Linked DNA regions of Homo sapiens. The protein of the gene in region 3 purifies or fractionates together with the protein of the main gene of each other region. This does not show direct contact. Each region holds a gene or a part of one and is shown on either strand. Other genes may lie near its edges.

Region 1 (4,151 bases), on a different chromosome or scaffold from region 3:
GTTCCCAAATTTTGATGCATGCTGGAATTCCTTAGAGACTTTAAAAAACACTGATGCCTGGCTCCTAGGCCTCCAAAGTTCTAATTTATTGGTGTGAGGTGCAAGTGCACATCAGGACTTTTCAGAGCTTCCCAAGTGATTCAACTATAAAGCAAAATTAGAGAATCACTAACCTAGACAGTCACCCAGCCCAGAAATCTGAGTTATTACTGACTTCATCTTCTCCCACATCTTCCTCTAAAATGTCTCTCCAACAGGCACCTCCTCTAAGCTCCCAGGTCAGAATTAAGGTTTTTAACATCCCTCCTGGATTTCACTAGTACCTTCTCTAATTTCCTCCTCCATCCACTCTCTACTCCACTGCCAGTGTTATCTTTCTAAAGTAAACCTGATTTGTTCCTGCTTAAAAACACTGAAGTCAGGCCAGGCCCAGTGGCTCACGCCTGTAATCCCAACACTTTGGGAGGCCGAGGTGGGCAGATCACGGGATCAAAAGATTGAGATCATCCTGGCCACCATGCTGAAACTCCATCTCTACTAAAAATACAAAAATTAGCTAGGTGTGGTGGCACACACCTGTAGTCCCAGCTACTCAGGAGGCTGAGGCAGGAGAATCGCTTGAACCTGGGAGGTGGAAGTTCCAGTGAGCCGAGATTGCGCCACTGCACTCCAGCCTGGGCGGCTGAGCCAGACTCCATCTCAAAAAAAAAAAAGAAAGAAAACAAAAAAACAGTGAAGTCTAAACTTTTTAACTTGTCATGAAGACCTTTCACAATGAGGCCCTTACCTACTTTTCTAGCTTCATCTCCTGTCATACCCCAAAATATACCCTAGCACTTAACACTATCACACTGCTCTGTTATTTTGGCTTTCTGGACATTCTAAAGGCACAAATCCCATTCTGCCTTTGTTCATGCTGCACCCTTTGCTTCGAGTTCCATTTCTCTATGAAACAAAACCTTATTCATCCTTTAATGTTCACTCCAAAAATACCACCTTAATGAAGTATTTCTTATCCATACATTCAACTTTCCCTCCCTCTTCCATACTTCCATATAATTATAATAGTAACCTATCTAGTGCCAAGATCCTGTTGTGTGTTATTCTCATTTAAACCTCACAACACTACTTTGGGTAGGGTAGGTATTATACCCAATTTACAGATGGAGTAACTGAGACTTTGAGAATTTAAGTGACTATCAAGTCATCAACTTAGTAAGTGGTAGACATGATGGGCACTGCAGTCTGACTCTAGAGCTCATCTTCTTTACCACCACCTTACTCTGTCTCATTGTAAAATCTCTTCTAGAGGACATCTAACTTTATATTCAATTAAGAGAGAGACAGTAACTTGAGAGCAGAGCCCTGAGCATCTGTATTTGTCTCCTGAACACAGGATTAGGTTTTCAATAAGTGTACCCTCAATGGATGAACTAAATAATGAAATAGAACTCTTAAGAGTAATTCCACGTTCTTTAACCAAAATAGTACCCTGGTCTGATTTCAAACAATTAATTCAGCTCTTTATTATACCTAACACTTTCACCTGTTACTAAAAGCGTGAATAAATTAAAAGTATTCATTACTTAGTAAGTTCCTAGTTTTGGATGCAAATAAAACTCAGGATGGATAATTGGCTGATGACTTGAAATGCTGAACCATAAAACTGTCAAGTGACAGACTACAAATTTTTAAAAAGCATTAAACATATCTCTTGCTTGGGTTTATCTCTCACATCACTTATATGCATGGTCAGAATTTCAGAGAACCACTGAAAAATTAAAAGCTTTGCTTATATTACATTCTTGGTGTCATTTCATTTTTGCTGCAATATACTTTGCACATCCAGACCTGCAGGGGTGCAGGTGGTAGAAAAAAATCAAGCTGGTAGCTGTAATTTAAAAACTTTTGTTTTTTACAAGAAACTGTTTGCAGAGAGGAAGTAATGCATCTAGTACGGTCTGGCATATGCACATTCAGTAAAAACCTGATTAATGAGTAAATATCAAGACAAAACAAGTAAAGCATTTTGTGATTGTGATTCGTGTTAGTCTGTAAGAGAGGAAGTGGCTGGCAGCCAATATGAAGGACTGTTCCCTTTTCTAGTAGACATTCGGAGTGGACAACAATTATCCTAAAAGAAAATAACACACTTTCCCTTTTTTTGAGCATTTATTCTAAGTCTGACAACGCGTTCTGCTTGTCATTTAAGCCCACAGCATAGAAGCTATTGTTCTGCCCACTTTACAGGTAAAGAAGTCATGGCTCAGAGGCATTAAGTGACTCGCCCAAGGTCACCCTACTACAAGGCAGAGACGAAAATTCGAACCCGGACAGTCTGACTCCATAACTTGGGCTTGCAAGCCTCCAGCAGCGAGCAGCATTGTCTGTCGGGCCACAGCGCAACCCCAGGGCGCTAACGAGACACGAGAGGGAGCTTTAGGATTCCCCATCTCGCGGGGTGGGCAGGACAAGCATCAGTAACGAGGAAGACGAGGCCTGAGGAGGCTGGACCACTTTAACAAGGTCACAAAGAGTTTCTGCTCACGCTAGGGGAGCACCCCCAAATCCCTCGGGACCACTGGGGAGCCTGAGCCAGAGCTCCCCCCGCACAGAGGCGGCAGCGCCCAGCTCGCCGAGGTCAGGCCTGCGAGCAGGTCTGCTGGCCCCAGGGCGCCGGCCGCGGCGCCAAGACCGAAGTCAGGCCGCCGCATCTGCCCAGCGTTCCACCAAGGGCCTTACCGGGTCGCCAGAACTTCACCGGTCCCACGGGCGCAGCCATGTTGGGGTAAAAGGTCACGAGGCTAGCTCCACCCCACCGTCGCGCGCTAGGCCCCCAGGGCCCGGAGGGCGTGGCCCCCGAAGAGCCGCTGCCCAGACGGATCGCGCCGTGTGACGGCCACGCCCCCACAGCTACCGCCCCCGTCTGAGCCACGTGACCCACTTCCAGGCTCCGGCGAGCGCACCGGCCCCGCCCCCGAGCCCACGTGACCCTGCTCAGCCATTTTGGAGAAAAGGGCGCGCTCCTCCGCCTACCTCTTGAGCGTGGAGGGTAGATGCTTCAGGTGACCTTTTACGAGCGTGGCGTGTCCTGGATGGCGGCCGCACACTTAGGAAGAACGGGCTTTGGGAGAGGACCGCTGGCCCGAGAGTGGAACCTTGCACGCACTGGGCGTTGAAGCAGTGCTTTCTGGATTAAATACGAAATACTGATGTCACAAGCTACCTCAACTTGTCGACTTCTGTTTTATTCTCAATTTCAAATTGAAGGGTAATAATAGGAACTACCTCGTGGGTTGTATTTGTCAGTAAATATTGCGCGCCTGCTGTGGGCCCAGGTAGTGCGGCACAGTGCCCCAAATAAAACAATGCGAAATGATATGGAAGTCTTCAGGGACCTTGAGGGCAAAACGGAAAAACGGACTGGGGGTGGGGTGGAGCGAATGGGTTGGCAGAAGAGACTGAAAATGGGTAGATCAATTAAGGTAGTCCACCAACTCAGTGCTTCCTCCAATTTGATACCCTTGAGTCAAATGCTTGTTAAAAACACAGATTCTAGGCCTTGATCCAATTCTGAATCGATGTCCTGGAGCATGGCTTGGGAACCTGCATTTTGAGAAGCTCCTGAATTCTTCAGATTAACAAATTTGGGAAAGATTACACTAATCCATCAGACGAAAGGTGAGGTCAAAGAAAAAGAAATTACAGTAATCCAAAGGAGCGCTAAGAAGGGGTGATGAGCTCAAGTGGAGGAAATAACTTTCTAGGTAGGCAACTAATTGGAAGGAAGTGAGAGGCTTCAGAATCTATGCATTTTTAAAGCTGTGAAGAAAATTCTGAATTCTTTGAAAGAAGTGGCATCATTATGGCAAGAGCAGGGGCTTTTGTGGACAACCAGTCCAGACTTGGAATCGTAACTTTGCCATTTCCTAGCTCCTAGCTGTCATTTAATTTTAGTTGTAAAATGAGGTTTAAAGAGGTATTACATGAGATAACATGTAAAGTACCTAACAGTGCAAAACATAGCAGGCACTGAATCAATGTTAGCTCTCATTACCTCAACTCAGAGCAAATCCACCAGGGGGAAAAAAATCTGAATTTACCTGCATAGGTTCATGTAAGAATCTTCTTTGATTTATTTTTATAGTAAT
Region 2 (3,520 bases), on a different chromosome or scaffold from region 3:
ATATATACAGTTTCAGTTGGCAAATCGTGAACATTTTTATAAGTGAATGTCAAGAAAAAGGAGACTTGTGCCAGAGTCCACAGCTTCTTGGTCACTAGACCCAATAAAGAACTCAAATGGCTTCCCAGCTCTATTAAAAGTAGAGAAACTGGAAGACAAGGATTATAAAATTAGACCTCACAGCATGTAATGCTACACCACTTAATCTTCATTCCATTTCTGATGTTTTTGTTAGCCATTACATGACATAAATGTAAATGTAAACAGTCTGCTTGCTCACAACCTTGTTAACAACAAACACAATGAAATCAAATCAACAATGTGGGCATATGGCTAATAGTACTGAAAATATTTTGGTTTGTTTTAATTGGGGGACTGGTTAGAGTATGGGTAAAGGTAGAAATAATAACTCTATTCATAATACTGACTTAATTATTTCCCAATAAATTCTATGCAAAGCAGCAAGAGAAGTAATGAGAATGAATGGGAATCATCCTACTCTCTGAGTTGTACTACCTGTGTGATGTCTGATCTGCACAGCTCATTAAAACTTCTAAGTCTTACAGCCAAAGAAGTGGTCCTGAGAAGTCATTTATCCTCTCCCAAGATAGGAGTTACTTTTTGGCATCACTGAGGGATGACCTCTTGTTCCTTCCTAAAACAAACCACTTTACTCTGGGACATCTTAGATCCACATTTTTTAAAATCCTATATGTCTCTCTCCTTGCAACCATTTGTATCCACCCTATCCTAGCTGTGCTTTCTGGAGCAAATCTGGCATTTCCATTTCATGAATTCTGTTTCCTTAACTTTAAATGAGAATATTGAAGAAGATAAGGGCTTGAGGTTCACACCTTTTCAAAGGGACAAAAGGAATGTTTTATGGTATTTAGTTTAATAATCTTTAAAATTTACTTTTATAAAACAATATTCAGCTGGGCACGGTGGCTCACGCCTGTAATCCCAGCACTTTAGGAAGCTGAGGCAGGTGGATCACAAGACCAGCCTGGCCAAGATGGTGAAACCCCGTCTCTACTAAAAATACAAAAAATTAGCTGGGCGTGGTGGCGGGTGCCTGTAATCCCAGCTACTCGGGAGGCTGAGGCAGAGAATTGTTTGAACCCAGGAGGTGGAGGTTGCAGTGAGCCGAGATTGTGCCACTGCCCTCCAGACTGGGCGACAGAGTGAGACTCCGTCTAAAAAAAAAAAAAATGTATTATTGTTTACAGAATCTCTCCTTTTTACTCCATTTTCTATTTGGCTACCCTATCTGTGATCAATATAGGGGCTGGTTTTTGGCCCAGGCCTCCCATAAAACACTTTTCTCTCCATCATACCCCAGATTATCACTCATCCCACAATACCCTATTGTGCCCTATCTTGCCCATCAAAATGTACCCTGTCCAGTTCTCATTCTACCAGAGGCTGATGTTTAAAAGAAAAAAAGACTGTCTCATGTCCTTCTGAAAGCAGTCAGTAATGGGGGAAGTGGCCTGTTTTTAAACATCCTTTTGTTTTCCTTAACACCAAAATGCAGACCTCTCATCTATAAATTCCTATAGAGTCCTTTAAAATAAACAAAATTCCAACTATCTACTACTTCTGGGGGTACCCAGTAAGTTATCTCAGTTTATTACCCACAGTGTTTAATATCTCCTTAAGCTTCAAGGAATAATAAATATGAGACCTTCTCCAGCAACTTAATGGCTTTCTCGAGGCTCAGCAATAATAAAGGTGCACATTAGTCTAGATGAGTAATATACCAGGATGGAACTCTTTTGAAGGATACAAGGGTTATAAAACAATCTGTCATAAACTATACCCGCTACAGTAGGCATTTGTTAAACATTTGGCTAGCTTTGTTGCTGGATTCCTTCAGAATTCTTTGATATAGTTCCCATGATTATAAACAGCTACACTGGTAGTAATAATTTCTGAAAACAGATCCATTAAGGGACATCCTTTCCTTCTGGCATGCCAAGAAGGTAAAAGGAGGTAAAACCTACTGACTACTGTTTCTCAAAACAGGGCTTTAAGTAAGACCTCTCACAGGACAGCTGGGAGAAAAATATAAAACTGCCTATTAGAAATCAGTTCATATGTCACTTCTGGCAGAGGTCTTATTGATGTTTTAACTCTATTGGACTTAGTAATTTTGAACATATCTGCCTCCAAAACAAATTAATTTTGACATGGAACTCTAATCCTTAAAATCTTGCCTAGCAAAAATAGGAGGAATAACTCCTTTAATTTCTTTGCAATTATTATATATCCTTGACTACATTTGACTTCACTGACTCTTTATCCTTTCTGCCTTAGGCGCAAATAAACTATTATTTATTTCTGAATTGTTTCACTATAGCCCTGCCCACCCCCACATATTCTTTTTAAGCTTGCCTAATTTTTATTTTCCACAAAGTGTATGTATTTCTATTTTTTTCACCTTGGCTACTTTTATCTTTTGAAAAATACCAATTTTCCTTACTGCTCTGCATGTTTGTATGTTATATGTGGGCTTTCTCCCTGCTCTTTGGTGAACACTAATATTTTTATTCTTTTATATTGATGCCAGAAATCCATAAATATTATTTTGCTAAATTTAAGACTTAAAATGCTCTCCTCTAGGCTTTGCAAACTTCAGTTTTCAAAACGTTGATATGTATGCAATTTTATACTTTTTATTAAAGTATTAAGATACCTAAATATTCTTGTATGATCCCTGGTATTTTTAAAACTAATAATTAGAAAAAAAGTTGCTATTCTTTAAATCAAATTTCAAGGATAACGCTTAATAAAAGCTTTAAAGGATAACATTTAGTAAAAGTACTTTGTTAATGCTCTAAGTGAAAGTTCATAACAAGGCAAAAGGTAATGTCACTTTTTGAAATACAAACTTACCTTCCCATTCATCTTTGATGTGATCTCTGACATTGAGATTTATGGTAACATCTGCACGAACTCGGGTTGGCCAGTTTTCACCTATGTTGGGTTTGGCCACTTCAACGACAGTGAAAGCCACAATGGGCTGGGCCATTCGCGCCCAACCACCAAACACTACACCGCCATATTCAGATTGCCTGAAACCAAAGAAATGGATGATTACTCAAACAAAAAATAATTTATCCCCAACTTTTAGACAAGTTAAAACTAGTAAGTAGGAATACTGTTCAGCTAGTATTTAAGTCCTAATATTAGTAACTCTTATTTCTTAACTTAAAAAAAAGAAAACCTTTAACTCTCAAAGTATGCAAAGTATATAAGATAGCATGAAACAGGGATATGATAGCATGAAACAGGCAAACATGGTCCAGAAAAGAAAGAGAAGTAGAGGAATATCTCCTCTCCAACCTAAGAAAAAAGCTAACCCTATGTACATAAGAGCATTCTGGGGCTGAGCCATTTTATCAAAGAAATAAATAATCCAGCACACTTAGTTTTATTTCAGCTTTATTGACGTATACTTGACAAATAAAAATTGTATATAGTTAAGGAATACAATGTGATGTTTTAAACTATGTAT
Region 3 (3,396 bases):
AGTGAGCAAAACCACATTCACATAACTTTTATTATAGTATATTGTTATAATTGTTCTATTTTATTGTTGTTAGCAAGCGAAACCATTCACATAACTTTTATTATAGTATATTGTTATAATTGTTCTACTGTATTATTATTGTTAATCTCTACTGTGCCTAATTTATAAACTTTACCATAGGTATGTACATATAGGAAAAAACATACTACATATAAAGTTTAGTATTACCTGTGGTTTCAGGCATCCACTGGAGGTCTTGGAATGTATTCCCCATGGATAAGGGAGGACTACTATAGTCTTTATCAGTGGTTCTCAAACGTGAGTGAATATCAGAACCACCTGGCTGGCATGTTACAGTGATTACTGGGCCTTACATACAGTTTCTGATTCAGCAGGCAAGGACCAAGATTTTAATTTTTAGGTTTCTAAGGGGTTCTGATGCTGATGGTACAGGGTCTACACATGAGACCTACTCATCTATAAAAAGAAAATTACAGACAACACTCTCATTCATTTTAACTATGTTTATTGTGCACTTAGTAGGCCAGATACTCTTCTGATATTTGAGAATACAGTGGTGAATAACACAAACTCCATGCTTTCAAGATTCCCACACCCAGATACTAAGACATATTAAAATTTACAGCAATTAAAACAGTGTAGTTTGGTACAATAACACATATAGCAATGATACAAATTAGGGGAAAAAACCCTGGCTTCTATAACAAGTGAGTATACATTAAAGACAGTATTGCAGAATGGCTTCAGGATTAATTTGATTAATTTAGAGAGAGCCTATTTCAGGTCTTCCTAGCTCATCCACACACATCACCTTTCAGTGTTCTTTATAGGTACTTAAAACTTAAAAAAAGGCCCAGGCGCGGTGGCTCCTGCCTGTAATCCCAGCACTTTGGGAGGCCGAGGCAGGTGGATCATGAGGTCAGGAGATTGAGACCATCCTGGCTAACAAAGTGAAACCCCGTCTCTATTAAAAATACAAAAAAATTAGCCGGGCGTGGTGGCGGGCGACTGTAGTCCCAGATACTTGGGAGGCTGAGGCAAGAGAATGGTGTGAACCCAGGAGGCGGAGCTTGCAGTGAGCTGAGATCGCGCCACTGCACTCCAGCCTGGGTGACAGAGCGAGACTCTGTCTCAAAAAAACAAAACAAAACAAACTTAAAAAAGATAATGTGGCACCAAATTTGTAAGATACTTTGAAATTCATAATTTCAGATGGATGTGGCTGGTAAGGATCTTAACAAGCCCCCAGTTTGGGCTGACTTTTACTAATGAGGAAAATTGTTAGGATTAAGCAGGGTCTTGAGGAATCACCTCTAAAGGCTCAGACTTTAAAGTGCTTCCCCTCCCTTCCCTACCCCAACATTTGGAGAAATCTCTCACTAGATGGCCTTTCAAATAAATGAGAAACACATGGTTCTAGGACAATTGATTATTTGAGAAAAAAGTATACTCTAATAAATTCCAGATAGAATAAAGGTTAATGTGAATAAACAAAAACAAAGAGAATATGGGTAATTCTTTTTTTAAAATTTATTTCTATTTTTTATTTTTTTTGAGACAGTTCTTACTCTGTTGCCCAGGCTGGAGTGCAGTGGTGCAATCATAGCTCACTGCAGCGTTGAACTCCTGGGCCCAAGCCATCCTCCTGCTTAGCCTCCTGAGCAGCTGGGACTACAGGTGTGTGTCGCTACACCTGGCTATTTTTTATTTTTTGTAGAGATAGGGGTATTGCTTTGTCGCCCAGGCTGGGCTCAGATTCCTGGCTTCAAGCAATTCTCCCACCTTGGCTTCCCAAAGTGTTGGGATTACAAGCATGAGCCATTGTGTCTGGCCTGGGTGATTCTTTATCTGACATAGAGGTTGGGAAACAGAACAACAAAAAAAAATTGATAAATTACATAACTTACAAATTAGTAAGAAAGATATGACCATACTAATGGAAAAAAGTTAATTCAAAAACTTTTGACCTTAAACTAACTTTTTGGATATTAGGCTTCCTGAAGTTCAAGAGTGACATATTAGGCTTATATTAGGCTTATTTGTAATGTTTGAATTATACAGGAAACATTGTCAAGTGTGAGGTGGTGTTTAGCTTCCTTTGGGTTATACTGATAGAGATTTGTTGTTAATATGTGTTCCAGGATTGTATGAGAGTTCTAAAATTCTGATATGTCTTAATATATGTTGTAATGATTATGTTAAATTGTTGTAAGCCACAGAAATAGCCACATTTGTCAACTGTGTCTTTATGGCTGTCTTAAGACTTTTGTCATCCATAATTGATGTTTTGCTCTGATCCTTCTCAAAAAAAAAAAGTGACTTATAATCAGCTACAGTCCAAGGCTTACTTCTTTGGAGTTCATGAAAAGAACTCTTGAATGCAGGTTTCTGGTAACTTTGGAGAGTGTGCCATTGGATTAGACAGAAAACTTCCAAGGCACTAATTGAAAGGCTGATGTGTTCATAAAGATGAATATGAAGTAGAGCAGGAGTTGATTACATGGACTGAAATGAACTAATGGAAGACTGAAATAATTTGTATGGCTTTTGTTGTTTGAAATATTGCTACTTCTTTTTGTTTTTTCAGAGTCTGAATAATCTTTTTATTTTGAGCTATTTATAGCCTTGAAATACACTTTAAGTGTATTGAGTATTCTAATTTCTCCAGAATTTGTAAACTATTTATGAATATTCTTAATTCATGGCATTTGTCTGTATAAAGTTAATAACCACGTTTTCTTTTGTAATAGGGCACAATTGAAACCGGTTACTTTCTCAGGACTTTGACTGAAATGGCCTTGTGAAATGTTCTAGCAAAGCCAATCTAGGAGAGTCTATATGGACAATGATTCTTGTTGCACTTTGTGTGGGTAATCAGGCCCAGTATATGGGACTGCAGTTTATTTTGAAGTTAGGTCGGTTCTGCTGTGATTTGTCTTTGGTGGAAGTGGTAGACTGGAGACAGAAATATTGTATGTCCCTAAATTAATATAGCTCCCAACAACCAATCCCTCATTATACCTTTAACTGCAACCACCAGACACAACGGCTAGGAATAACAGCAGAGGTAGGAATGGGAGTTAGCGGGATTGCAACTTCCCTATCCTATTACCAACGCTTGTCCAAGGATTTTATGGAAAGCCTGGATAACATTGCTCAAAGTATTGTCACCTTACAAATTCGGATAGGCTCCTTGGCAGTGGTCGCTTTGCAAAATCGAAGGGGACTAGATCTCCTAACTGCTGAAACAGGTGGCTTATGTATTTTCCTAGAAGAAGAATGCTGTTTTGATGTCAACCAATCAGGATTAGTAAGGGACACCACCTGAAAACTAGCTGACTGGGCCTCTAAAATATGACAACAGCTGGGGCACCT
Region 4 (3,520 bases), on a different chromosome or scaffold from region 3:
TTGATTTTTCTATTTTTAGTAGAGACAGACAGCGTTTCACCATGTTGGTCAGGCTGGTCTCAAACTCCTAAACTCCTGAACTCCTGATCCACCCGCCTTGACCTCCCAAAGTGCTGGGATTACAGGCAGGAGCCAAAGCTACCAGCCTATTCCACGCAATTGTAACAGTTACTAAATACTGTCATTCATCATGTGGGGTGGGGGTGAATAAAGATACATCTTAGCAAAAACAATACAGACAATTCAGGAAAGAGTTTCCAGTTTAATTACATCAAAGCTATATCCAAAATAAAAATAACACTCAGAAACAAAGATTGCTTATAATTCCAGAACATTTTAATTCTACAGAGCTTTAATAAAAAGCCCGACAGTTTCCAAATGTTCATCAAAAACAGAATGAATATCAGTCCCATCAATAAGGGGGAAAATCAAAGAAAAAAAAAAGGAGAGGGTGAGAGATGTAAGAGATGAATGAAGGTTGACAACTATTCTCCTTTAAAAAGAGAAACACTGCTTCCTCAATGTCACTGAAGGATATGAACAGGCAAGAGGAAAGTAACTGTCCATATTTGCCTTATATACAGTATTGGGTAATTAAATGCCAGTTGGGCTGTTTAGGAATGGCTTGCTAAAACATTGAAAAAATGAAAGACTTCATCCTTGTCGTAGACTGCCACTTCAGTGGAACATTCAGTGCACATGACTGGGTGATAGATTTCTTCCACATCTGTCTCTGCCTTCTCGGCAGCATCTTCCCGGTTAGACCTCATCTTCTTATGGACCCGCCTTTTCTTCCTGTTCTCTGAGGCTTTATATCTTAGAACCTCCTCTTTGTTAATAGAACAATTCATTACAAACATTGCTCTATATTGAGTTTTGTATGATTCATGCCTAAGAGAAAAATGAAATGGAGAATTGGGGTTTATGTTCTATGTTAATAGTTTATCCATTTAGATAAAATTTGAGAATACCAAAAACTTACTGAAATACCAACCAAAGACAAGACACAGGAACAAAACAGCAAGTTTAAAGAAATTTTAAACAGTTGTTTTAAGAATAATTAAAACTTGTGAACACAGCTCACTGCAGCCTTGAACTCTTAGCCTCAAGTGATCCTCCTGCCTCAGCCTCCCTGGTAGCTGGGATTACAGGCACAAGCCACTGCACCAGGCAGAAGAAACATTTTAGTATGTAACAGTGTAAGGAAGAAATGTATCCTCTTTCCTTCTGCTTTTTGAAAGTAACTTTTTTTTTTTTTTTGAGATGGAGTCTCGCTCTGTCGCCCAGGCTGGAGTGCAGTGGCGCGATCTCGGCTCACTGCAAGCTCCGTCTCCTGGGTTCACGCCATTCTCCTGCCTCAGCCTCCCGAGTAGCTGGGACTACAGGCGCCCGCCACCATGCCTGGCTAATTTTTTTGTATTTTTAGTAGAGATGGGGTTTCATTGTGTTAGCCAGGATGGTCTCGATCTTCTGACCTTGTGATCTGCCCGCCTCGGCCTCCCAAAGTGCTGGGATTTCAGGCGTGAGCCACCGCACCCAGACGATTCTATTTCTTTTTTTTTTTTTTTTTGAGATGGGGTTTCACTCTTGTTGTCCAGGCTGGAGTGCAATGGCGTGATCTCAGCTCACCACAACCTCTGCCCCCCGGGTTCAAGTGATTCTCCTGCCTCAGCCTCCCAAGTAGCTGGGATTACAGGAATGCACCACCACACCTGGCTAATTTTGTATTTTTTAGTAGAGACAGGGTTTCACTATGTTGGTCAGTTTCATCTTGAACTCCTGACCTCAGGTAATCTGTCCACCTCGGCCTCCTAAAGTGCTGGGATTACAGGCATGAGCCACCGTGCCTAGCCTGATTCCTTGTATTTCTGTGGTCTCAGTTGTTATGCCTTCTTTTCTATTTCTAATTTATTTGGGCCTTCTCTCTTTTTTTCTAAGAGGTTTGTCAATTGTATCTTTTAAAATTATCAACTTTTAATTTCATTAATCTTCTGGCTTGTTTGTTTGGGTTTTTTGGGGTCTCAATTTCATTCATTCCTGCCTTGATCTTTATTATTTCTTTCCTTTTATTTTATTTAATAAATTAATTTTTTTTTTGAGATGGAGTCTCGCTCTGTCACCCAGGCTGGAGTGCAATGGTGTGATCTCGGCTCACTGCAACCTCTGCCTCCCGGGTTCAAGCGATTCTCCTGCCTCAGCCTCCTGAGTAGCTGGGATTAAAGGTGTACGCCACCACACTTGGCTCATTTTTGTATTTTTAGTAGAGACAGGGTTTCACCAGGTTGGTCAGGCTGGTCTCAAACTCCTGACCTCGTGATCTGCCTGCTTTAGCCTCCCAAAGTGCTGGGATTACAGGTGTGAGCCACCATGCCCAGCCTCTTTCCTTCTATTAATGTTGGATTTGGTCTGTCCTTGCTTTTCTAGTTCCTTGAGGTGTATCATTAGATTATTTGGGTGAAATGTTCTGTAAATGTCAGTTAGGCTTCTTTGGTCTACTGTGTAGTTTAACTCTGATGTTTCTTTATGGTTTTCTATCTGGATGATCTGTCCATTACTGAGAGTGGAGTGTTGAAGTCCCCTACTATTATTGTATTGCAATACTAATACTGTATTGTATCTCTCCCTTTAGATTTTTTTTTTTTTTTTTTTTTTTTTTTGAGATGGAGTCTCACTCTGTCACCCAGGCTGCAGTGCAATAGCACGATCTTGGCTCACTGCAACCTTCACCTCCCAGCTTCAAGTGATTCTCCCACCTCAGCCTCCTGAGTAGCTAGATTACAGGCACCCGCCATCATGCCCAGCTAATTTTGGTATTTTTGTGGAGATGGGGTTTCACCATGTTGGCCAGGCTGGTCTCAATCTCCTGACGTTGTGATCCACCAACCTCGGCCTCCTGAAGTGTTGGGATTACAGGCGTGAGCCACTGCGCCCAGCCCCTTTGGATCTATTAATGTTTATATACCTGGGAGTTCCAATGTTGGCTGCATAGATATTTATACTGTTATATAAATTCCTCTTGCTGAATTGACCCCTTTATATAGTAAACTTCTTTGTTTCCTTTTTACAGTCCTTGATTGTAGTCTGTTTTAAGGACAGCTATTCCTATACTGGTTTCCAGCTGCATGAAATATCTTTTCCCATTCATGTTCAGTCCATGTGTCCTTACAAGTGAAGCAAGTTTCTTCTAGGCAGCATATAGTTGAGTCTTGTTTGTTGATCCATTCAGCCACTGTCTGCCTTTAAATTGGAGAAGTGAGTCCATTTACATTGTGTTAGTACTGATAAGTAAGGATTTGCTACTGATGTGGCTTGGGTCTGTGTCCCTGCCCCAATCTCATGTCAAATTGTAATCTCCAATGTTGGAGGTGGGACCTGGTGGGAGGTGACTAGATCTTGGGGGCAGACTTCCCCCTCGTGCTGCTCTTGTGATAGTGAGTACTCACAAGATTTGATTGTTTAAAAGTATGTGGCACCTCCCCTCTCTCTCTTCCTCTTGCTCTGGCCATGTAAGATGTGCCTG

Evidence for each region.
Region 1: the proteins of KIAA1143 (region 3) and DHX35 purify together in Homo sapiens (affinity purification with mass spectrometry; 2 studies listed by BioGRID and IntAct, with this or other methods). This does not show direct contact.
Region 2: the proteins of KIAA1143 (region 3) and AQR purify together in Homo sapiens (affinity purification with mass spectrometry; 2 studies listed by BioGRID and IntAct, with this or other methods). This does not show direct contact.
Region 4: the proteins of KIAA1143 (region 3) and EAPP purify together in Homo sapiens (affinity purification with mass spectrometry; 2 studies listed by BioGRID and IntAct, with this or other methods). This does not show direct contact.

Annotation. Positions count from the first base shown.
Region 1 is NC_000020.11:38,960,999-38,965,149, reverse strand, and holds the start of DHX35 (probable ATP-dependent RNA helicase DHX35), read right to left. Parts: upstream 2,807-4,151; 5' UTR 2,783-2,806; coding exon 2,743-2,782; intron 1-2,742. UniProt on the Homo sapiens protein: May be involved in pre-mRNA splicing.
Region 2 is NC_000015.10:34,907,237-34,910,756, forward strand, and holds part of AQR (RNA helicase aquarius), read right to left. Parts: intron 3,078-3,520; coding exon 2,899-3,077; intron 1-2,898.
Region 3 is NC_000003.12:44,748,235-44,751,630, forward strand, and holds the end of KIAA1143 (uncharacterized protein KIAA1143), read right to left. Parts: 3' UTR 510-3,396; downstream 1-509.
Region 4 is NC_000014.9:34,515,696-34,519,215, forward strand, and holds the end of EAPP (E2F-associated phosphoprotein), read right to left. Parts: intron 892-3,520; coding exon 615-891; 3' UTR 243-614; downstream 1-242. UniProt on the Homo sapiens protein: May play an important role in the fine-tuning of both major E2F1 activities, the regulation of the cell-cycle and the induction of apoptosis. Promotes S-phase entry, and inhibits p14(ARP) expression.